Homo sapiens: one gene and its partner. The main gene of each other region encodes a partner of the protein of the gene in region 2 in a complex. Links are inferred from orthologs where the notes say so. Each region holds a gene or a part of one and is shown on either strand. Other genes may lie near its edges. The genes, in order: WWC1 and LATS1.

Region 1 (12,376 bases), on a different chromosome or scaffold from region 2:
AAAATTTATATAAGAGAAAGAGAAAAAAGAAACTTTTACTAGACTCGAGGTTGGCATTTATTTTCTGTGTGACCTTGGGCAAGTCACTTGTCTCTGGTTCTCAATTTCTTTTTTTTTTTTTTTTTTTTTGAGATGGAGTTTCGCTCTTGTTGCCCAGGATGGAGTGCAATGGCGCGATCTTGGCTCACCACAACCTCCACCTCCCGGATTCAAGCGATTCTCCTGCCTCAGCCTCCCGAGTAGCCGGGATTACAGGCATGCACCGCCATGCCTGGCTAATTTTGTACTTTTAGTAGAGATGGGGTTTCTCCATATTGGTCAGGCTGGTCTCGAACTCCTGACCTCAGGTGATCTGCCCGCCTCAGCCTCCCAAAGTGCTGGGATTATAGGCATGAGCCACCGCACCAGGCTGGTTCTCAATTTCATCAGTGAAATGAGAGGCCTGGATTTCACGAACAGAAAGGTCCACTCCAGCTGCAAAATTGGGTAGATATGCAGCATCCATTTGATGCTGCTGTTTCACAGGTACGTTCTAGGAAAAGTTAAAGGAACTGGCATTCCTCAGTGTCCCCTGCATGTCAGACTTCAGGCTTGCTGCCCTACCTACCTTCACTTACTTATCACCCATAACTACCCTTGATGGTTGATGGACATCTTTCCATTCATTAGAAGGCAAACGCAAGGTTCAGGGACAATATGTCAATTACCAAGGTAACTCAGGTAGCAAGTGGCAGATCCAAGATTCCAGGAGCCAAAGACTCACTTATCTACATTTGCCCTCTAGGTGCCCATGACCTGACCACACCAGAATGGTCACAGGTAAGTGAAATCATGCCTGTTTTGGCTCCATTTCCCAAGGCCAAATTCCTTAGGCACTGGAGCAGTGGTCTTGATTCTGCAGCTAACTCAGCAGGAAGTAAAATGAGGCAGTGGTTAGAAATGTGTGTTCTGGTGTGAGCCCGCCTAGTATTCACATCACAGCTCCACAAAGGTTGAGGGGCTTTACCAAGCCTCCCTGAGCATTGGGTAGTTCAGGTGGGTAATAATTGTACCTAGTCCCAGGGTTGTTAGGAGGATTTAAAGAGATAACCTATGTAAAGCTCTCAGCAGACTGCCTGAATATAGTAAATACCCAATCATTATTTGCTACCTAGCTAAACAGGAGGCCTTTCCATGGTGACAAGCAATTTCCAAGCTTATCTATGGCAGGGGTTATGAACCTGGGGTCCAGGAGGTCCCTGAAATTATGTGCAAAAACCTTTTCTCTAGGAAGAGTTCTGAACCTTTATCAGTCTCATAAGGGTCTGTGACCTGACAGAGGTTTAGACTTTTTGACTGCTGTAGACCTGACTTCCTACCATATCAATTATTTCTGAAATAACAGGGTTAGCAAAAGATCCTCAAGTCATGGGAGAAGTTGCTGGATCCTCTCAGCATGGCCTCTCCAGCCATGTGTGCCTCCGGTACTTACCATACAGACCCAGAAACTGCCCAGAATTCCCAGGTGGTTCCTATGAGAAGGTCTGAATACAAATCGCACAACAAGAAGGAATCAGGCTGCAGGAACCTTCTCTGGGAGGGCCAGCCCCAAAGATCTATTCTTCCTCCGAGAACAATCGGTGCATTTGTTTTGCATACCACGAAGTGAAATACACAGGACGCTGGCCCCTTCGCTAGAGCTCACAAAAGCACCCAGAGTTACTCCGCAAAAGGAGCACGGCTCCAAGGTGCTGTTCAGACCTGATCCACAGCACCTGATTCCCGAAGGGCCTGTCACCTTCCCAGGCTGGCCTTGACTCAGGAAAAGCCTGTGGTGCTGCTGGAGCCTTTGGCCCAGTGGGCAGGACCCAAGCTGCCCACTGGACCCTCTCCGGTTGTTGGGACAACCATCCTCAGGAATTTCGGCCTCCCAGTCTTCCCCTGGGTGAGAAGGGGAGAGAGTTGGCAAGGCTGGCTGCTTGGCTGCTCTTCCAACCCCCTGGTGAAAGGGGAAGCTGAAAACTGGATTCCCTACCCCCAGCAGCTCCTGGCCGGCCAGCACACAAAACAGCTCAGCCCCAGAGGGAGGAATGTGCCAAGACATTCTTTAGGGTTGGTAACCAGAGACGCTATTTTGTCCTTGGTGGCTAAGAAATCACTTTTCTGACTGAAGGACCATTTGACTTACTTCTTTTAAATTCAGGGGAATGGGTGGGCATCTCCATGATTCAGGTAAGGAAAAATCCAAGGCAAATAAACACACACACACACACACACACACACACACACACACGGAGTAGAAATTTTTAGTGCAATTTTTTGTCTCACAGCATTAATTAATTGCAGGGATATAACTACCTTGGCAGAATTTTTTCTCCCCAACCCACCACCCCCCGGAATAAGTTTGGCTCTTTTCAGCTTTGTTAAATTTCTTCTTCCTTTTTCTCATAGCCCATCCCTGTTCCCCCTTCTCCTCTCATGGAGTCTGGAGAGGTAAGAGCGGCAGAAGGGTTTGAAATAATATTTAAGAGCTGGCAGGCCCTTGAAGACCATCTAACCAACCCACTTCTCAAGCACTCAAACCTCAGAGAGGTCAAGTGATTTGCCCAAGGCCACACAGACAGAACTAAAAGGCAAAAATGGGGTATGCCGGAGGGAAATTCCAGAAAACCACAAGTGGCTATCCTCCAATTAGCACTTTTCCAAAACATACAAAGCTGGACCACAATAGTGACCCCCAGAGTTGACATGAGACCCCCTCAGGACCCCAAGTTCAGGGGCCCAATACCACCCCAGTCCAGGTGGGATGACAAGGAGGTACAGAGATGAAGTTTATAAACCAGTGACCCAAGGCCAAGCGTGGTGGCTCACGCCTGTAATCCTAGCACTTTGGGAGGCTGAGGTGGGCGGATTGCCTGAGCTCAGGAGTTCAAGACTAGCCTGGGCAACACAGTGAAACCCCATCTCTACTAAAATACAAAAAATTGGCTGGATGTGGTGGCGTGCACCTGTAGTCCCAGCTACTCGGGAGGTTGAGGCAGGAGAATCGCTTGAACCCAGGAGGCAGACTTGCAGTGAGCCAAGATCGCACCACTGGACTCCAGCCTGGGCGACAGAGCGAGACTCTGTCTCCAAAAAACAAAAACAAATAAACAAAAAAACCAAAAGCAAACAAAAAAACCAATGACACAAGATGAAGAAGGTGAGCTGCTCACCTAAGTGCCACTATGTTTCTGCCGCCTCTCCATGGCTTGCCAATCTGCTTAAAAACAAAGGCTGGGCAGGTGAGGTGCTGTGGCCTTAGGCTGGCCACAGTACCTAGCTAAAATATACTAACCCTGGTTTTTTGTTTTTTTTGTTTGCCTATCTTTTTTGTTTCCCCTGTATGACAATAGATATAACTAGTTTCCCATTTGTGAAAATGGTACACATATTTTTAAAGTGAGTTGATCTAAAGTCAAGGAGTAAGTAAGCAATAGCACAGGTGGATATAGCAAAAAAAAATCATGGAGGTGGTCCATGTAACACTAAAATTTGGGAGATTGTGCTCCAGCCAATCAGTTCTTCATAGAAGCTACTTACTTACCCTTTTCCAAGGGTAAAGAATTACTGTTGAGAGGGGCCTCCTATTGCTGTATTAGAAGTCCCCAGATGCATGATTATCAGTGTTGGCAGGGGCGGTCCTTTCCCTCCAACAGGACGTCCACCTGCTAACAGCACACAGGCCTCCGTAAACTACAGGGACCTAAATTGGGGCAGGTCACATATGTTTGAACTTGTGTCTGTTCTGAGAAAAGGACAAGAGAAAAGGTGCTGCCAAGTTCACCAACACAGTAGCAGAGCTGGCAACTGACCCGAGTAAGGGTGGGGAAGCAGTGTGTCAGGGTGACAAGTTTGCAGGTTAGAACTTCAGAGCTGGTGAAGAACTGGTACGCAGAATGGCAGAAAAATCAAAATACTTGAGCAAATCACACCTCTGGGCTTCAAATTTTCTCTTATGTTTCAAATGGGAGTTGGGCGCTGATGTACGTCCCTTCCAAGTTTTAAGCATCCCAATATTCCCTTCCAAGCAAACTTTTTAAATTCAGGGAAATGGTGGGCTCCCCCATCTGACAAACAGGGAAACTGAGGCTCAGAGGTTGAAGCAGCTTGCCTAAGAGATGCTCTCTAGCACTAAATATTTACCTTCCAGATTACATTCATGAGACATTCAGCATGGTGCTGAGTGTAGAGGAGGCATCCAGGAAGCGCTGAATGAACGAATGAATGAATGAATGAAAGTAAGTGCTCCCAGAAACTACCGAGAATCTCAACTCTCATTTTCTTTCCGCTTATATTCTTTTTTTGACCCACATCTTGCTACATACACTTCTGGGACACCTCCACCCCCACCACACAAGATGAAGAGTCCAAGAAATTCACCTTGGTTGCTTTACAGGGACCTGACCCCCAAGGTCACAGACAAGGTTTAAAGTCCGCATTCCCCAAGACACTCTGCCCACAGACCGTGTCAACAACATCGTGGTCCGGGGACTCTAGGACATACATGGAGAGGGTGAATGTATGTGTGTGTGTGCAGCATGTGAGCAAAGAAATGCCAAACAACCAGGAGAAAGTCTGGAGAGGTAAGAGCCACACCGAGCTATCTCAGGCTCCATCTGCCTCTGCACATTATCTCAACCTACAGCGGCCTGGTACCCACCAAGGTCAGGTCCCGCTGGTGCAGGGCTGAGGAGCCTCGCCGCCCCCTTCCCCGATCAGGGAAGAAAGAGAGGAGAAAGAGGCGAGGGGCAAGGCTTTCCGGGAGGCCTCTCACCTCCATCTCCATCCTAACAGCTTCCAAGTTGCTGCCAGATTCCTGGATAACCAGTCTCCCTCATCTGCCCTCCCCCGCTTCTTCACTTCCTCCCCACCCTCGGGTTCCAGGGCCCCCTGGCTGCCCCTGTGCTGTTCTCAGCAGCTTCCAAGGCACCTGTCAAAAAGCACACCTCAGGTTGCCTTCCTCTGCGCCGAGTGCCCTCTCTCCAGTGGTCTCCCACGGAATCCTGGGGTCTTGACCACCCCCTCTAACCGGACACTTCCCCATCCCCATCCGCCCACCCCCCACGCTGGGTGGAAGCCTCCCCGGGAAGACCCGGCTTCACCCGGCTAGGTCGCTCCCCCAACCCCCGCCCCCGCCCGACCTCTCTTCCTAAAGGGGGCGGGCGGGGCTAGAGCTTAAGGTCAAAACTCCGGGCAGGTGCCGGCTGGGGCCTAAGTCCTCCAACTGGGGATGGCGGTGGGGCAGCCTGGGCCAGCTCCCCGGCAGGCGCCTCCTCTCGGTGGCCCACTGAGGCGGGAGCAGCGCTCCAGAAGGTTGGGGGGAGCAGGGGGTGGCGAACTGAAGAGAGCTCAAGAGGCACGCAGAGCTCCCCTGCCCCCTCCCAGTCCCGGCCGGCGGCTCCAGGGGCAGGTGGGGGCCCAGGCGGGGGTGTGGGGGCACGGAGGAGGGTTCCAGGGTCCTACCTGTCCCGCGGGTCGATCCAGCTGGTGGTGCGGTTCGTGTGGTCTATGTAGTAGACCTTGCCGTCGAAGTCGCGCGCCTCCTCCCAGCCCTCCGGCAGGGGCAGCTCCGGCCGGGGCATCTTCCCAAGCGCTGCCGGCGCTCCCCCATGCAGCTCCCGGCCGCAGCGGGGGCTCAGCGGCTCCAGCCGGCCGCTCTTAGCCCGGGCGGCCGCCGAGGCACCATGATCCGGGGGGTGGCGCCCGCAGATGGGGGGCCCTAGTAGGGGCCGGCCGGGGTGGCGCCGCTGTCCATGCGGCCCTGCAGCCCCGACCCGGCGCCGCCCGCTCCTCCCGCCGCCGGCCTCTCACGCTGCCATGTGCGTCCGCAGCGGCGCGGTGCGAGCCCGGGTGCGCGCCCAGCCGGCCGGGCAGAGCGAGCCGAGCGCCGCCGCCGCCGCCGTCTGCCCTCCTCCGCCGCGCGGCGCGCTGCGCCCTCCACGCCGCCGCTGCCGCTGCCGCCTCCCTCCTCCCTGCAGCCGGGTGCCGTCCCTCCTCTCCGCTCCACCGCTCTGAGCTCGCCGGGTTTGTGACTTCTGCCTCCGCCAGGTGCGGCTCGGGCGGTGCAGGTAACCGCGCTGCCCCGGAAACGGGAGGCGGAGCGCCGGGCGCCTGGGTTCCCGGGTCCCCTCCCCGCGCGCAGCGCCTCGAGGGCGGGTCCTAGGGCCCGAGACGCGCCCCCTCGTGGGACAGTCCCAGCCGCCGGCCACCCTTACGCTGCCCCTGCCAGGGGAAGGAGAGACCGCCCCTCACCTGCGTCCCAGACCTAGGGGGCTGGGCCAAAAACCGCTCTGCCTGTACTTAAAACGCTCCTGTCTCTCTCCACCCGGAGTAGCCAGGCTCTCGGCACAGGTGGCCCCAAATCTTAAAAACTCCCTGCTTTTCTGTGGTGTAGAATCAGGAGTCAGGCAAGAAGTGGTTAAATGGAAACATTCTTGCGAATTGGGAAACATAAGTTTTCCAGGATCTCTGGTCCCTTCCCCCAACACAGGCACCATCTGTCTCCTTCTATTCAACTCTCCCTACGACGTTTCGCCCACCCTCCACCCTTCCCCACCATTTGGAAATGTAGCTGGCTCCCCTCAGGGTCCCTAAAATTAGGAGCGCTGTGGATCCGCTTTCCTGGGAGGACTTCCAGAGGGTGTCAGGGAAAACACTTTGTAAAAGTAATAGTAATGCCATTGTTATTGTTAGCTAAATTGAGGACTTACTTGTGACAGGCTGTGGCTAGCAGCTTCACAGGCTTTCTTTCCTGTGATACTTTGAGGTAGGTGTGTTATGGATTTGGGAGAAGTGGGGCTATGAAAAAGAAGAAAGTAAGCAAAGCAAAATTCCATCTTGAAAAATGTTCAAGAGAATAAAACAATCAGAGACACAATGTTTCTTGAGAAATTAAAAATGTAGAATTAGTGGGTGCGGTGGCTCACGCCTGTAATCCCAGCACTTTGGGAGGGTGAGGCAGACAGATTACCTGAGGTCAGGATTTCAGACCAGCCTGGCCAACATAGTGAACCCCATCTCTACTAAAAAATAATAATAATAAATTAGCTGGGCGTGGTGGTGCACGCCCGTAGTCCCAGCTACTCGGGAGGCTGAGGCATGAGAATCACTTCAACCTGGGAGGTGGAGGTTGCAGTGAGCCAAGATCGCACCACTGCACTCCAGCCTGGGCAACAAAGCGAGACTCTGTCTCAAATAAATAAATAAATAAATTTAAAATGTAGCATTAAATACAAAAAGCAAGCTAGCATGATTGAGTGAATGATCAACTGGCTGTTCACTTCCCCATCTCCTCTTACATCTGTGTACTGAGTGGGAATTTAACCCTTTTTTGCCCTCGGCATATGGCAGGAAGCTGGACTGGTCGAATGAAGCCCAGTTGGGTGTCTTCTCTTGCCTGAGCCCCACGGTCTTCCAGAAGAACCAGCACCCTGTGCTGTATGGACCAGGGTGTTGCTGAGCCAGAGAGGGAATCATGTTTGTGGTCTCATCTCCTCTTGACAGAAAAGACCCACCAGAGTGAGCCTCGCCTCCAAATGCCTTCTTCATAGTTAATTCCTTCCCTGAGGCCAGGCCTCGGGGCTCAGTGCTTGGCCCTCCTTCATTCCATAAATACCAGGCACCAGAGTCCAGGGACACCAGCCTCAGACTGGCCCTCAACACCCAAAAGTTGGAATTCCCCATTCCTTTATGGGGGAATTCCCACAGCCCTCTACACTTCCTCTGTTTGGGTCAAGCCTTTACTACATAAAAACCCACTATTGATTAGAGCAGTAGCCCCAAAGCAAAGCCAACCTGGTGCTAGGTTCTTTGAATACATGATCTCAATCTTCATAACAACCCTCTGGCATAGGAAAGTCTATTTATTATACCCATTTTACAGATGAGGCTCCAAGATGCTTTGTTGTTGGCCTGGGATACAGAGCTCATAAGACAGACTAGGTCTGACTCTAGTGCAGTGTTCTCAGTTATTAACCTATACTTTCTTTTTTTCTTTTTTTGAGATGGAGTCTCCCCCCATCCCCCAGGCTGGAGTGCAGTGGCATGATCTCGGCTCACTACAACCTCTGCCTCCCAGATTCAAGCAATTCTCCTGCCTCAGCTTCCAGAGTAGCTGGGATTACAGGCCTGCGCCACCACGCCCAGCTAATTTTTGTATTTTTCAGTAGAGCTGGAGTTTCACCATATTGGCCAGGCTGGTCTCGAACTCCTGACCTCAGGTGATCCGCCCACCTCAGCCTCCCAAAGTGCTGGGCTTACAGACATGAGCCACCTTGCCTGGCTGACTTTCTTTCTTTCTTTCTTTTTATTTTTGAGACGGAGTCTCGCTCTGTCACCCAGATTGGAGACTTTCTTTCTTTTTTAAATCACTCTGCAGCCTCAGAACTTCCCCATGGTTGGGATGTGGAACATGACTGATACTGACAAATGTTCATCTCTGTTGATGTTTGCTTCATAGTTTTTTGGTTGAGAAGCAAGAGCTCTAGAATCAGGCTGTTTGGGTCCCAAGCCCACCCGGTTTTCTAGCTGTGTGACCTTGGGCAGCTTGCTTCACTGAAGTCTCAGTCTTTGATTTGAAAAAAAATCACATAACAATATGGACTCCTTTGGGCTTGTGGTTAGGGCAAAGCAGGAGGAGAAATGTGAGGGCTTGGCACTCAGCAGCACGCCTTCATCTCAGGGGCTGTGGTGCGGTGCATTCGGAGCACCGTGCCTGGCAGCAGACACACCTCTATGAAATGTGGACCATTTGAAGTATTTTCTGTTCAAAACACAAATCCACGTCCTTTCCCCTTCTGAAAATTATGCCTGCTTGCTTGCAACAGTCCTCCTAATTGCTGATTTTTTTTTTTTTGGCCTTATTTTTCAACCAAGCCTTTTTACTGGTTGGCATTGATTGTGAAGAGAAAACACCTTTTAGACTGCCAAGTCCCACTTTCGTTTTAGTCCAGCCACCCAAACCCTGGCATTTTCCAAATGGCTTGCTTCTTTGGACCTTTTGACCTGGCCTGGGAAGCAAGAAAGAGAGACCAGAGCAGGAATTGACTCCTGAATTAAGGCCTAGGTCTGTTCGCTCTTTTTACCTCCCATCCACCCCCAACGAAAGAATCCCAGGTTATCTCGCAGAAGCGGCAAGCAGGGTGAGGTAATAAAACAGATGACTGCCTGCCCCATGTGATGGCGCGTGAATCATCCCGGACATTCTGCGAGGCTGAGGGCAAACGTGAAAGAGATTAAAGGTAAAACCGGCTCAGCCACATGATAGGCTGAATTGGACGTTACTCTACAGGTGACTGAACTGCAGGAATCCGAACTGAAGACAAGAAGCCCAGCCCTCTCCTGGCCACCCTCCTGGGGCTGCGTCTGGCTGCCCGCGTGTGGAGTTGAAGGAGACAGGCTTGGGCAGTGTTGGGCAGTGCAGAAGTGACCACAGGCCAAGCCTTTCTAATGACAAAGGCCACATCCCGGTGGCCCAGAGGAATCACCTGAGCCTGAGACAGGCTGTCTTGTTTTTAAAAACGATGCGCACTTGAACCCTTTTCTCCACTGCAACTGCAGGGAAGAAAGGCCGTTATCCACACGTGTTTTAGAGTGTTTCAGAGAGCCAGAGTCACATATTCCATGAAGATGGTAAAGAGGAGAAATTAAATATAAAACAAAGGAACAGATATGTTAGCAAGTCCAGTTTCCTGTTCGCATCTGCATTCTTCAGGGGAAACTGAGGCTTTGAGAACCTCTGCTGAGATTTTGCTTCCTGCTCCATGACTCTACCTCCCTACCTCATGCCGTCCCTCCCACACATCCTGGGGAATGCACAGTTATGTTCTATGATGGAGCCAATAATGTCCCCTTTCTTGAGTCATGCATTATTTGAGGTTCATAAATGTACTGTGGACTCTTTTTTTCCAATGATGGGAAAACACGTCCTAAGCCAGAGAAAATGAGGGTGGAAGAAACCTTGGTAACACGAGAGCCGAGGCAGAAGAGATGGTTTTTTATTTACCTCTCGGTCCTCCGTGCTTAATTCAGTGCTGGGAAATCAACTGAAACAAGTCTTGCACAGCCTACTCATTTTACAAACAGAGAAATGGAGTTTGTGTGAATAATGATTTACTGCCCTAGTTCCTGCTGGTTCCATTTCATAGATGAGCAAACTGAGATTCAGAGAGGCAAAGTGACTTTTCTGTAGTCATGTAGATATCAACTTAGCTGCTTCTAGTGAGTTTTTGCTTCTGGACTCCCAGTGTGGGCTTTAGAGTGCCTGTGAAGGAGAGATTTCAGGGCCATGGTCTGGTTGGGAAAGGAGGTGGGGTGGCCAGGAGACTCTCCTTAAACTCCTACTTATGTTTGGGTTGTGCGTCTATTTGGAGTGGATGGAGGAGGCCATGGAGGTTGATGAGGGCATGCTAAAACTGGTCACAGCTGAGCTGACAATGAGAGGGCAGAGTTGAGGTGGGGTTCTCAATTCTAAGAGGAGGAGATAGTGCCCTGATCCCCCATTGCCTGCCCAGTGCTGTCCACAAGACCCCCCAAGGGGATTGGTGTAGGGGATTTCACAGGCTCAGCGGTCTCTGTGGGAAGAGGGGTACTTTTCTCCCTTTGTTGCCTGTCTTTCCTCCCCACTTGTTTCCTTGCTGGTTCTTTTTATTTATTTATTTATTTATTTATTTATTTATTTATTTATTATTTTTTTTTTGAGACAGAGTGTCACTCTGTTGCCCAGGCTAGAGTGCAGTGGCGCAATCTCGGCTCACTGCAACCTCTGCCTCCTTGGTTCAAGCAATTCTCCTGCCTCAGCCTCCTGAGTAGCTGGGATTACAGGTGCCCGCCACCATGCCTAGCTAATTTTTGTTATTTTTAGTAGAGTCGAGGTTTCGCCATGTTGGCCAGGCTGGTCTCAAACTCTTAACTGAGCTGATTTCTCCTATGTGAGAGGCTGAGGCTGCCAGGAGAGGTTGAGTCCATCCTATTTCTGACTCTCTCATCAAGGGATTCTCTGGGGACTGGGAGCTGTTGTGTCTTTCACTGAAGAGGAAATGAATTATGCACCAAAGGAGGAGGTGGAGATGAAATCTCAGTTTCAAGGGTGGGGGTGTGGAGAGGAGAGAGCAAGCCCATGAGCAGAGGGCGGGAGTTCTTGCAAAGCAGTGCTTTCCTCTGTTCCTCTACTCAACAGCAGAGGCGGAGCCCTGGTGGGAGACGGGGGTGGGGGTACAAGTGCAGTCACCAGCAGACTGGCTGAAAGAAGCCTCTCTCGGTATTTATAGAGCTTGCATCGCCATGGTACCCAGGCGCTTAAATTAAACTCTAGCCCAACTGCTTGGAGATGCATGGAATGAAATGCACTTTACCTGTCCACTGTACATGGTCTCACACCTCATTCTCAGAACTTCACCACTGCAAAGATAAGCAAATGGAGTGAATTTTACAAATCACCTGGCAAGAAGGGTATAGGGTTGGGTTTATACAACAACCTGTCTCAACAGGGTGGCTGGGCAGAGTAGTAGAAAATACATGGGCAGAAAAAGCAATCCAGATCTGAAACTTGGCTCTGCATCTTGGTCAGTGTGTGACTGTCGGCATGAGACTGCATCTCTCTGAGCCTCAGTTTCCTCACCTGTAAAATGAGATCACCAACAAGAAAAATGAGAGCAACAATGCTGCCTCACTATTGACTTGTGACAACTATATGAAATGATACAAGTGAAGTGCTTTGCTCAGCTTCTGAAATGCAGAAGCTCTTTTAAATATAGGTCTCCTTCCCTGTTCAGCTGTTATTCATTTATTCCACAAGAACTTTTTTGTCTGCCTATTGTCTGCCAGACAAGTATTGAGACATAAGGGTGATTTCTGGTCCCGTGGAGCTTACAGTTTAGTAAAGTAACATGTAATAAACAAGTCAACACATGAAAAAGTAATTGCAAGTTGTTGTTAATAATATGAAGGAAGGAGCGTGCTGTGAAGAATTTGGTAGGGTGTGGATTGGTTGAGAATCTACTTTAGACTGGACCAGAGGAGAAGGCCATTCTCAGGAGGTAACACTTAAGCAGAAACCTCAAGCAGCCCACAATGCGAAGAACCAAAGAACATGCATTGCAGGGAAAGAGAATAGCAGGAGCAAAAGCCCTGAAGACAGTATGTTCAACACACCCAGGGCGCTGTTCCCATTCTGCTGAAAACCACAGGAGGCTGCTCTTGTTGGGGGCACCCAAGCTAGAAGGTGGTAGCCCTAAAATGCCACAAGATTCTCTGCCCCCAAACCCATGGCTTCCTGTACCACCATCTCCACCCTGATCCAGGTGAACAGAGTCCCTGCTCCCCAGCCCTGGCTACTCAGCTGCAGTTGCCTCAAAGG
Region 2 (12,517 bases):
GAGACCCTAACTCTACAAAAAATAGAAAAAATCAGCCAATTATGTTGGTGTGCACCTGCAGTCCCAGCTACTGGAGAGACTGAGGTGGGTGGATCAATTGAGCCCAGGAGGTCGAGGCTGCAGTGAGCTGTGATTGTGCCACTACACTCCAGCCCGGGCATCAGAGCAAAACTCTGTCCCAGAAAAAATAAATAAATAAATAAATTGAGTATATCTTAAGATCAACCCTTGGGCCCCCAACTTCTATGAGCAATAAGCTAGCTGAGAAAGATGTGTACCTTCCAAAGAGAGAATACTCACCCAACACACACTTCACAGGTGGCCGAGTATGATAATGAAAACAATGGATGAGAGTTCCTTCCAAATAAATCAAGGTCCAATCTCCCCTCCAAAGCAGAGAAGTTCTAGAGTAGCAGTCATTGCACATGCCTAACTTAACCATACATAAAAGTCGAAATCTCTGTTACCTCAATTGTATTATTTTCTTTTTTTTTTTTTGAGACAGAGTCTCCCTCTGTTGCCCAGGCTGGAGTGCAATGGTGCCATCTCGGCTCACTGCAACCTCTGCCTCCCGGGTTCAAGCAATTCTTCTGCCTCAGCCTCCCAAGTAGCTGGGATTACAGGAGCCCACCACCACACCCGGCTAATTTTTTGTATTTTTAGTAGAGACGGGGTTTCTCCATGTTGCCTAGGCTGGTCTCGAATGCCTGACCTCGGGTGATCCACCCGCCTTGGCCTCTCAAAGTGCTGCGATTACAGGTGTGAGCCACCATACCCGGACAATTGTAATATTTTCATTGGCAGCACCATATATGATGCTCAAAATGTTTTTTCTTTTTTTCTGTTTTGTTTTTGTTTTTTTGAGAAGGAGTTTCTCTCTTGTTGCCCAGGTTGGAGTGCAATGGCGTGATCTCAGCTGACTGCAACCTCTGCCTCCCGGGTTCAAGCAATTCTCCTGCCTCAGCCTCCCAAGTAGCTGGAATTACAGGCATGTGCCACCATGTGTGGCTAATTTTTGTATTTTTAGTAGAGATGGGGTTTCACCATGTTGGCCAGGGTGGTCTTGAACTCCTAACCTCAGGTGATCCACCTGCCTCGGCCTCCCGAAGTGCTGGGATTATATAGGCATGAACCACTGCGCACGGCCTCTTTTTTTCTTTTATCATTATTACTTTTTTTTTTTTGTGAGACTGTCTCACTCAGGCTGGAGTGCAGTGTCGTATTCTGGCTCACTGCAACCTCTGCTTTCCAAGTTCAAGTGATTCTCATGCCTCAGCCTCCGGAGTAGCTGGGACTACAGGTACCCACCACCACACCTGGCTAATTTTTGTATTTTTAGTAGAGACAGGGGTTTGCCACGTTGGCCAGGTTGGTCTTGAACTCCTGACCTCATGTGATCCACACACCTCAGCCTCCCAAAGTGCTGGGATTACAAGCATGAGCTACCACGCCCAGCTATTATTATTTTTGTAAATACAGATGGAGATCTTGCTAGGTTGCCCAGGCTGGTCTCAAACTCCTGAATTCAAGTGTTCCTCCTGCCTCAGCCTCCCAAAATACTGGGATGATACCATGCCTGGTCCACAAAATGTTCTGAAAGATTCCATTGTGACATAGTATTGTGCACTCAAACTGTCATTCAATAGACAATGCAATTAAAGGCATAAGTAATTATTAAATTCAAGCAAGATCACAGAATTTTCAAAGGTAAGACAGACTCAAAAGTCTGCCAAAACTTTTGGAGTTATCTTCAGAAGAAGCTGTTTAATTTCCAGCAATAGGTAATTCAATTAAGAAGAAGAAAAAAAAACTAAGTAAGCAAAAATGAAAGGCAAGCAAAACCCCAGTATTCTTCAATATACCTTAAAATTATACACACAATCATAAAGACAATATAGGTTAAGATAATTAACTAGCATTATGAAAAGCAGCCTGTTATCATGATGTTGCATTAACTAACCGAAGTAATTCAGAAGGATCCTAGATTCTGAATGTGAATAAGGCTGAGACTCAAACTTTATTGTGACAGACGAAAATGGTATACAATTGAATGAATAAATGTATGCTATTATTAATAAAAGCTTTATGTTTACTTTCTTCCTGCTAAAAAATTGCTACTAAATAGATGGCTTATCTTAGATTTAGTGGTATTTCAGAATTGATAAAGTATGATAGTTCAACCTTATTCCTTTAAATACCGATATTGAATTTCATCATGTAGATGTACTATTTTTTATTTATTTATTTATTATTTCTTTATTTCTTTATTTATTTTTGAGACAGAGTCTCACTGTCGCAGGCTGGAGTGCCGTGGTGCCATCTCAGCTCACTGCAACCTCCGTCTCTCGGGTTCAAGTGATTCTCCTGCCTCAGCCTTACAAGTAGCTGGGACTACAGACCCGCGCTACCACACCGAGCTAATTTTTGTATTTTTAGTAGAGATGGGGTTTCACCATGTTGGCCAGGCTGGTCTCGAACTCCAGACCTCAGGTAATCCGCCCTCCTTGGCCTCCCAAAGTGCTGGTTACAGGCGTGAGCCACTGCGCCCGGCTAGATGTACTATTACTTATAAATCCCTGACTGATGGACATTTAGGTTGTTCCTCATTTTTTTGCTAATGTAAAATAATACTGCAAACTGGTAACTTCAATTATACTGGTAATATTCTTGTTCTGAGTTCAGGTGGTAAGTTCATGGATGTTCATTTTATTATGCCTCATAGTTTAATAAAATGAACATATGTATAATATACATATAGCATATTCCTTGCACATAACGAAATTAGTTAATAAAAAAATTGCTGCAATAAAAATTCTTGTGCACACATTGCTGAGCATTTTTCTTAAAATAAATTCCCAGAAGTGGAATTGCTGGATCAAAGAGAATACATATTTAAAATTCTGATACTTATTGTCAGAATGCCTTCTAGAAAGTTATACTAATTTTATAATCCCCACAACAAGGTATGGTTAATACTGGCATTACTAAATCTCAACAATCTTTGCTGCTATGACATGTGAAAATTCAAATTATTACTAGGCAAAAAGAATTTTTAAAATAATTCTTCAAAGCAAAACTGCTTACCTTTTTAACCCACACTACGATGGGGCCAGATTCGTCTTAATAAACAATTCTGATCATGTCACCTACCTACCCCATAACTTTCAATGACTTTAATCTCATGGTTAAAGTAAGAGCTCTGGAATCAAACTGCCTGGGTATGACAGATCGCCATTTTTTTTTTTTTAAAGTTCAGACCCTCATCAAAAATACAAACATCAACAAACAAGTATCATTGATTAGTTTGTCCAACTTAGGAAAAAAAAAATGATACCATTACATAAGATTTCAAAGTGTTAATTTGGGTTGAATTAAGTTTATCAGAAAGGTACCCTGGCTGGGTGCAGTAGTGCACCTGTAGTCCCAGCTACTTGAGAGGCTGTGGTGGGAGGATTGCTCGAGTCCAGGAGTTGGAATCCAGCGCAGGCAACATAGCGAGTTCCCATCTTTAAAGGAAACTGCATACTGACATTTTCTTCAGTTCACTTTCTAATAATTGTCAGATCAAAAGTGAAAGCAACGCTGTATCTTCATGCTGAAAAATGATTGCTGTTCCTACTTAGCGAAAATGTTATTCAATGACTAAATAACTTTTGTGATGTATAACAATCTCCCATTGATGTAAATAAAACATCTAAAATAACCAAATAACCAGGGTTAGAACAGTTCCAACACTATTTATATAGAACAAGGACTTGCAATAAAAACAAAACAAAAATAAAAACGACCTACACAATGAAAGCCAGATATTATACATTAAAAATGTAGTAGAAGTATTTTTTGGTGAGCAGCAAGGCATATTCCATCAATATTTAGGCATAGAATGTGCCATTCCAAGCATGGACCATGATCTAGTTTCTTGCAGTAGCAGCCAATTGGACTAACACAATGCTACTTCTTTTACTGTTCAATCAAATTCCTCCACTGCCTTAAGGAATCAACTACCCCATTTTACCGTCAGAGATAATAAGCTTTGTTTTCGTAGCACAGAACATTCACTCCAATTATAATGTCCTACCTTTTCTTCCTCATGGAGGAAATTTGATAAAAAATTAAGTTTATCAGAAACTTCTGATAAACTGATAAACTGATAAATTTATTAACCTTCAATAAATAATTCATAAAGTTCAAACAAGTTTCATGATCGCTAACATTCAAATCCATTTCCAAAACTGGAGTTATACAATATTACTTCTGTGCATGAGATTATACTTATTGTTCACTAGATTTATGAATAACTTCTGGAGGATGATACATGTTTTAAAAGCCGTATTAACATATGAGTTGACAAACATTAAATTTTGTTCCCTTAGAAATTGACAGAGAAGTCAGAATGGGGATAAATCAAGTCATCTGAGGCATTCATTGAGCTACAAGCTATTTCAGGTTATAAAAAACACTGTTCCCTTAATTGTCGTTCCTTCATTTGCTGTATTTATATACACACTCCTACTCCATAAAGACCTCTCCATCTCTCCCACCTCTTCCAACTATGAACAGTAACCTAAAATCACACTGAACTAGACGTAAGAGACTCCCAGGATTTCTCTAAGGTATACCCAGGATCAAGGCCCTCTGGGATCCAAAGAACTGTAGCTCTTTTACTGCAATTTTCCTTCAGAACCACCTTTCCCGTTCCTTCCCTCCTGGACACCGCCGACTCGCGTGTTGGGGGTGGGGTGGGAGACACGCCGCCAGAAAGACAGGCTCTACCCAGCCAAACCTGCACCTCCGAGGCCGAAAAGCCTGGGGCTCTTCCTGCAGCACCGGGCGCGGCCAACCCTCGCTTCCCCAGGGCAGGGCTCAGCTCGGGTCAATGCAACCAGCCAAGTCAGGCCCGGAGCGGGCCGGCTCTGCCCGCCAGTCCAAACCTCTGGACCCTCGCCAGCGGGGATGGGCGTGGGCCCCGGCGGCCACCGCCCCGCCAACTCGAGCACTGGAGGAGCGCACCCGCTACGCCAGCCCCGGACCTACCTGGAGGGGAGAGCAGAGCTCCTGGACAGCGGCCACGGGCCTGAGGGCGGACGCTGAGGCGGCCAGAGTCCGTCCCAGCAACCCCAAGTATCCCTGGTGGGGCAGAGCGGGGAGACGAACGGGGGGGCTGCCGCGGGCCAGCGCGGCCCGTCCCAGGGGTCGTGAGGACCTGGCTCTCCCCTTAACACCAGGCCACCGCCGCCGCCGCCGCCATTTTGCCTTCCACTCAGTGTCGCCGCCGCCGCACTCCGCTGCAGGTTTCCCGGATGTGGGCATTTCCCGGCGTCGCTTGCGCGGGGGCCGAGGACTGGGGGCTTTTGCCCGCCCGGCTGCTGCGAGGGAGCGCGCAGCCTGCGGCCTCCGGGCTTCGTTGCGTCGCCCGCAGCTCTGATCGTTCGTGAGCGTCGCCCCACGTCGCTCCCGCCTGCCCCTGCCCATACGACTCGCCCGCGCCCGTGGGTTAAGGCTGTCTCCCGCCCAGCCTACTTGGTTGATTCAATCCTTTTCCCCATTGATCTATTTCTCTGGACCGAGTAGGGATGTGCATTTCACGGAGCTACGTTCTCAGAAGGGAACAACTGAGTTGCTCTGGGAAACCTCCCTGTGGACCTCAGAATTCCAGATTTTTGGCGCTTTGAAATAAAATTTTATTCTTGCTTAGCGTTCTTTCCCCGAACAAGCCGGTGAGCTTCCAGCATCTGTATTTTCTGAATCCGGCAGATAAGAAATGCTTGAGCCAGGACCGATTGATTAGCAGCGGTTTAGAGATCTTATCTGTCAACCGCATCCGTAGAAGGAGATCGTTATTGCCATAATTGGAATACCGGTGACGGTGTGACAAGAGGTTTTACTTCTGGTTAAGCTGAATGTAAAGTGTGGGATGGGATCGTTGGGTTTGATGTATAAGGTACGGTCCACCCTTTGTGAAGATCGCCTTTGCCAGTTTTTCCTCTAGGAAATATACAGTTAGTGTTTTCAAGTACCTTCTTTCGTAATTTTTCTACTACAGAGTACAAAAAAATTAAAGACATCTTTTTCTGACGTTAAAGTAATAACTGGCTACTTACTGTATCTAGAAATCCAAATGTGAAAACCCGTTAAAAGATTATGTTCCGGACGGGCGCGGTGTCTCACGCCTGTAATCCCAGCACTTTGGGAGGCCGAGGCGGGCGGATCACGAGGTCAGGAGATCGAGAACATCCTGCCTAACACGGTGAAACCCCGTCTCTGCTAAAAAATCCAGAAAAATTTGCCCGGCGTGGTGGCGGGCGCCTGTAGTCCTAGCTACTCGGGAGGCTGAGGCAGGAGAATGGCAGGAACCCGGGAGGCGGAGCTTGCATTGAGCCGAGATCGCGCCACCGCACTCCAGCCTGGACGACAGAGCGAGACTCCGTCTCAAAAAAAAAAAAAAAAAAAAAAAGATTATGTTCCAAGAACATTTGGTTGAAAGTCTATTTTCTACAAGCACAGAGTTTGTAGAAGGCAATGTGACCCAAGGTGGGTCACTAAAGAGCCCCAGGGCTTACTTTCTTCAACGTAAGGGTGCCCCATAAAGACCTTTTCAGCCCTAAAATTATATGAATTATAGGAATCTAATATGTCCACAGGTCTGCTTGCCCTATCCAAAAGGATTATGCATCTGGAAGGGCAGACTGCCCCCAGAATCCTGTCACGTCTGTCATCAACCCATGGTACTTAAGCTCCTCAATGCTCTCTAAACCTAAAGGAAAGTATCTCCACAAACTCTAGTCTTTGGGGAAATTCCTAGATAATTCAGGGAGCTGAGTAAATTGCTCTGTGTAGGACTAGGAGGCTTACTCCTGTGAAGTAGGGCGAGAGATAAAAGAGCAGGGAAAGCAGAGGTGGAATGATCAGGAAGAGAACTGACGAGATGCAAAGCATTGGGGACTGTAGGTGCGGAGAGTGATGATGGTTGGGGAAATACTTACTGTGGGTGCTGGATGTGTGGGAATGGTGATACCTGCCATCACATTTGCAGGTTTTTATATTATTGTGATGGAAGATCTTGGTCCAGTTTCAGCCTACTCAATTCTTCAGTGCTTCATGGAAATGGGGCTTGTTTTTAGCAATAGATGTAGAATCCGATTTCATGCTTGTGTGACCTTAGAAAGGAATTAGGGGGCAGTGTACATGGAAGAAGTCTGGAGACCAGTGTGGCCCTGAGAACATAAACCCTTCCAGAAATTCATACGATCTTAGGGGAAGACACCAGACTATGTGCCACCCACTCTTAAGGAATGGGGAGTTGTGCTCCATCTTCTTGAAAGTGGAGAATCCAGCCAGACTCTGTCCCCAAAAAATAAATAAATAAAATAAATAAAGTGGAGAATTCAAATAAATTATTTGACATTCTGCAGATTTATCCCTTCTCCTTTATTTATTCAAACATTTATTGGCCGGGTGTGGTGGCTCACACCTATAATCCTAGCACTTTGGGAGGCCGAGGCAGGCGGATCACTTGAGGTCAGGAGTTCCAGACCAGTCTGGCCAACATGGTGAAACCTCGTCTCTACTAAAAATAAAAAAAATTGGCTGGGCGTGGTGGGCGCATGCCTATAGTCCCAGCTACTTGGGAGGCTGAGGCAGGAGAATCGCTTGAACTCAGGAGGTGGAGGTTGCAGTGAGCCGAGACTGTGCTACTGCACTCTAGTCTGGGTGACAGAGCAAGACTGTCTTACAAAAAAAACAAAAAGCAAAAACATAAACAAAACAAAAACTCGTTATGTCAGTATGGCCTCATGGATATTTATTTTATGCTTTGGGTATTTATTTTGTTGCTCAAGTTGTTTCAGTTTTGGCCACTGGAGCTCTTTCAGTTGGCGTGTGTGTGTGTGTGTGTGTGTGTGTGTGTGTGTGTTTTAAAGAACTTTCTGCCCAGTTTGGTGGCTCACCCCTTTAATCCCAGCACTTTTTAATCCCAGTACTTCTGGAGGCTGAGGCAGGAGGATCACTTGGGCCCAAGAGTTCAAGACCAGCCTGGGTAACATAGCAAGACCTCATCTCTATAAATCAGCCAGGTGTGGTGGTACACAACTGTAGTCCCAGCTACTCAGGAGGCTGAGGCAGAAGGATCGCCTGAGCTCAGGAGGCTGAGGCTGCAGTGAGCCGAGATCTAGCCACTGCACTCCAGCCTGGGTGACAAAGCAAGACCTCACCTAAAAAAAAAAAAAAAAAAAAAAAAAAGAACTTTCTTCTTTTCTGGCAGTACATTATGTTCCAAAATCTTTTTTTTTTTTTTTTTTTTTTTTTTTAGATGGGGTCTCACTGTGTCACCCTGGTTGAAGTGCAGTGACATGATTATGGCTCACTGCAGCCTCAACCCCCGGGACTCAGGTGATGCCTCAGCATCCAAGTAACTTGGGATTACAGGCGCAGGCCACCATGTCCAACTTTTTTTTTTTTTGAGACCAAGTTTCTCTTGTTGCCCAGGCTGGAGTACAGTGGCGCCATCTCTGCTCACCGCAACCTCCGCCTGCTGGGTTCAAGCAATTCTTCTGCCTCAGCCTCCCTGAGAAGCTGGGATTACAGGCATGCGCCACCATGCCTGGCTAATTTTGTATTTTTAGTAGAGAAGGGGTTTCTCCATGTTGGTCAAGCTGGTCTTGAACTCCCGACCTCAGATGATCTGCCCATCTCGGCCTCCCAAAGTGCTGGCATTACAGGCGTGAGCCACCGCGCCTGGCACGCCTAATTTTTGTATTTTTTGTCGAGACCAGGTCTCCCTATGTCACCCAGGCTGGCCTTGAACTCCTGAGCTCAAGCGATCCGCCCGCCTTGGCCTCCCAAAGTGCGGGATTACAAGCTTGAGCTGCCGCGCCCAGTTCTCCAAGATATCTTGTATATTTCTTGCCCCGGTTCAGGGATCACCATTCCTCCAAGGATCCCTGGTTCCTTTTATTGGAATATGGTATAAGAAACCAAATCTGGGTGCTAGGTGTATGCCTTGCTACTGGTGTATCATGGATTCTAAGACTTCTCTGGCTAAGATTTTTTAGTTTATTCTACCCCTATAGAGGGGTAAAAACTCTTCTGATTTTTTGCAGCTACAAATTTTTTAAAAAATACTTTAATTAAATTTAAATTAATGTAATTTAGTTTTGAGTCATGCTGTGTCACCCAGGCTAGAATGCAATGGTGCAATCTCGGCTCACTCACTGCACCTCTGCCTCCCAGGCTCAAGCAATCCTCCTGGCTCAGCCTCCCAAGTAGCTGGGATTACAGGCATGTGCCAATATGCCTGGCTAATTTTCTTTTTTTTTTTTTTTAGTAGAGATGGGGTTTCACCATGTTGGTCAGGCTGGTCTCGAACTTCCCACCCCAGGTGATCCGCCTGCCTCCGCCTCCCAAAGTGCTGGAATTACAGGTGTGAGCCACCGTGCCCAGCCCCATTTTTTCTTTTTTTGAGATGGAGTCTTGCTGTGTTGCCAGGCTGGAGTGCAGTGGCACGATCTCCGCTCACTGCAACCTCTGCCTCCTGGGTTCAAGCAATTCTCCTGCCTCAGCCTCCTGAGTAGCTGGGACTACAGGTGCCTGCCACCAGGCCAGGCTAATTTTTGTGTTTTTAGTAGAGACGGGGTTTCACCATGTTGGTCTTGAACACCTGATCTCAGGTGATCCACCCCCCTTGGCCTCCCAAAGTGCTGGGATTACAGGCGTGAGCCACTGCACCTGGCCAGACCTTCTATTAGTCTGAGCTAGATACTATTGACACCATAAGCTTAACTAAAGGTTCAATATAAACTATATACTGTTGAATTTAATATGCTTCTTGGACAAGAGTCTAGAGTGGATTATTAAAAGGATGTTTCCACAATACAATTAAATAAAAGTACTATTCACAAAGGACCAGGAATTTTTCAATTATGCCAAATTTTTGATAGTATAACTACAGCACATTTTCTCACAATAACCTTGGAAATAAGATAAATGGAATGAAATGTCAATAAATTAGGTTGTTTTATAAATATTTCAGTAACTGTAGCCAAATACCAGAGATTCATGTTTCATTGATAATTGAGAAGACTCCAGCAGTGGGCCTAAAAACTTCATTTCATTTAACATCTTTCTGGCTGGGCATGGTGGCTCTTGCCTGTAATCCTAGCACTTCGGGAGGCCAAGGCAAGTAGATTGCTTGAGCCCAGGAGTTCAAGACCAGCCTGGGCAATATAGTGAAACACCATCTCAATAAAAATTGCAAAAATTAGTCAGGCTTGGTGGTACATGCCTGCAGTCCCAGATACTTGGGAGACCGAGGTGGAAGGATCACTTGGGCCCAGGATATCGAGGCTGTAGTGAGCTGGGGATCACACCACTGCACTCCAGCCTGGGTGACAGAGTGAAATCCTGTCTCAAACATCTTTCTTAATCAATGGGATGAAAGTGGAGAGAGCACGCTGGGCTAATTATGGAGAAAATAATAGCTTCTACAAAAGATTCAAAGAAAATAGTTAGTCCTTTCCTATATTGAAATGAAATTTTTCTTAGAACAAGAAAGGCCCATATTAAGGATTAAAAACCATTTGTATTAACTTCCGAATATAGGAAGTGTGGCTTAGGAGTATCACATGTGAACACTTCAGAAAGCTGACACAGCATTACAAAGGAATATCATTCCTATTAACAGGATGGCAAGATTTCTGTCATAATCACCAAGGTAGACAATATATGAAAAAGTGTTTATCTTGGAAGTCACACTTAAAAGAAGGCCTCTGGCCGAGCACGGTGGCTCATGCCTATAATCCCAGCACTTTCGGAGGTGGAGGAGGGTGGATCACTTGAGGTCAGGAGTTCAAGACCAGCCTGGCCAACATGGTGAAACCCTGTCTCTACTAAAAATACAAAAAATTAGCTGGGCGCACACCTGTAATCCCTGCTACTCGGGAGGCTGAAACAGGAGAATTGCTTGAACCTGGGAGGCAGAGGTTGCAGTGAGCTGAGATCGTGCCATTGCACTCCTGCCTGGGCGACAGAGCGAGACTTAAAGTCTCAAAAAAAAAAAAAAAGGCCTTTGACAAAGAGCAGTAATTTTTAAAGGGAAAACAAGATTGTGAAAACAAGGTCAATTAACAGTGACTCATTGCTTACTATGGTTCAGATACTGTTAAACACTGTTACACGAAGACATGGGCGCTGTTCTTGATCTTGTGGCCCAGTAGGGGGAGACAGGCTCCTTAACACACTGCTTTGCGCACAATTTAAGTTCTGCACAATGGGCTTTTGAAGCAGAGTGCAATTTAGTCCGGATTGCTGGAGGCCAATAAAAGCTGTCTGGAGAAAATGACACCTAGAAGGAGTCTTGAAGGATAAGAAGGATTTAGCCAAAAATGGAAAGAAAGAGAAGGAAACCTTCACTGGAGAGACTATAATAATCAATTTTGAATATTTGAATATGTGATGAGAGGAATTTTGTGTGTGTGGCTCCCGAGATAAGACAGATAGAAGCAAATTTCAGTTCAGTATATGAAAATTCATTTATTTAGTGAAACCCTGACATTAAAGCGTCCCAACACAAAGCAGATTCGAACATAACAACTGGTGATTGGCTCATCTCACAGGCTCACATCATCAGTGTGTTAACATACAATAGGACTGTACCCTTTTACAGGATTGAGTGTTTTGGATCCCACTCACACACTAAAACCCTGCCATAAAGTTGTATCAATTAGGGCTGTTCAAATGTGAAACTGTATTGGAAAATGGGAAACTTTATCTCCTTATATATGTATATTTTTTGAGATGGCGTTTTGCTCTTTTGCCCAGGCTGGAGTGAAGTGGCACGATCTTGGGTCACTGCAACCTCTGCCTCCCGGGTTTGAGCAATTCTCCTGCCTCAGCCTCCCAAGTAGCTGGGATTATAGATGCCTGCCACCACGCCCGGTTAATTTTTTTTTTGCATTTTTAGTGGAGACGGGGTTTCGCCATGTTGGCCAGGCTGATCTCGAACTCTTGACCTCAGGTGCTTCACCCACCTCGGCCTCCCAAAGTGCTAGCATTACAGGCGTGAGCCACCATGCCTGGCCACCATATGTTTTTAAGTATAGGTTGGATGATAATTTGTTGGGAATACCATAGAAGGGATGATGAAATTTAGGCTGGAGATGATCACCAAGGTACTTTCTATCTCTAAGATCCTGCAACCCTTGAAAGACACTCTATTTGACAGTTTCATGAATAAAGGCAGTGACAATGAACAAATTCATAAATTACGGTGTTACATTACATAAAGCTTAGTTTCTTATTAAAATTGGCAAAACTTGTCAATTGGCATGAAATGTAATGCTGTTAAAATATACTTTCTCTTATGGTTACAAATACTAAGTGGCTCACGCCTGTAATCCCAGCACTTTGGGAGGCCGAGGCGGGCTGATTACCTGTGGTCAGGAGTTCGAGACCAGCCCTGGCCAACATGGTGAAACCCTGTCGTCTCTACTAATACAAAAATCAGCCGGGAGCAGTGGCTCAA

The links.
Region 1: the proteins of LATS1 (region 2) and WWC1 are in contact, whole or in part, in a crystal structure (PDB 6J68), measured with the Mus musculus proteins. The link is inferred for Homo sapiens from one-to-one orthologs. Residues at the interface, in NP_034820.1 of Mus musculus: Ala546, Glu547, Ala548, Pro549, Ser550, Tyr551, Gly553, Pro554, Pro555, Pro556, Pro557, Tyr558, Leu562, Leu563; in NP_740749.1 of Mus musculus: Asp17, Tyr23, Ile25, Asp26, His27, Arg30, Thr31, Thr32, Ser33, Trp34, Asp64, Val67, Tyr70, Ile72, Asp73, His74, Lys77, Thr78, Thr79, Gln80, Ile81.

Annotation. Positions count from the first base shown.
Region 1 is NC_000005.10:168,285,380-168,297,755, reverse strand, and holds the start of WWC1 (protein KIBRA), read right to left. Parts: upstream 6,112-12,376; 5' UTR 5,604-6,111; coding exon 5,485-5,603; intron 5,051-5,484; exon of another isoform or gene 1,472-5,050; intron 1-1,471. UniProt on the Homo sapiens protein: Regulator of the Hippo signaling pathway, also known as the Salvador-Warts-Hippo (SWH) pathway.
Region 2 is NC_000006.12:149,712,815-149,725,331, forward strand, and holds the start of LATS1 (serine/threonine-protein kinase LATS1), read right to left. Parts: upstream 5,288-12,517; 5' UTR 5,035-5,287; exon of another isoform or gene 4,790-5,034; intron 3,612-4,789; exon of another isoform or gene 3,393-3,611; intron 1-3,392. UniProt on the Homo sapiens protein: Negative regulator of YAP1 in the Hippo signaling pathway that plays a pivotal role in organ size control and tumor suppression by restricting proliferation and promoting apoptosis.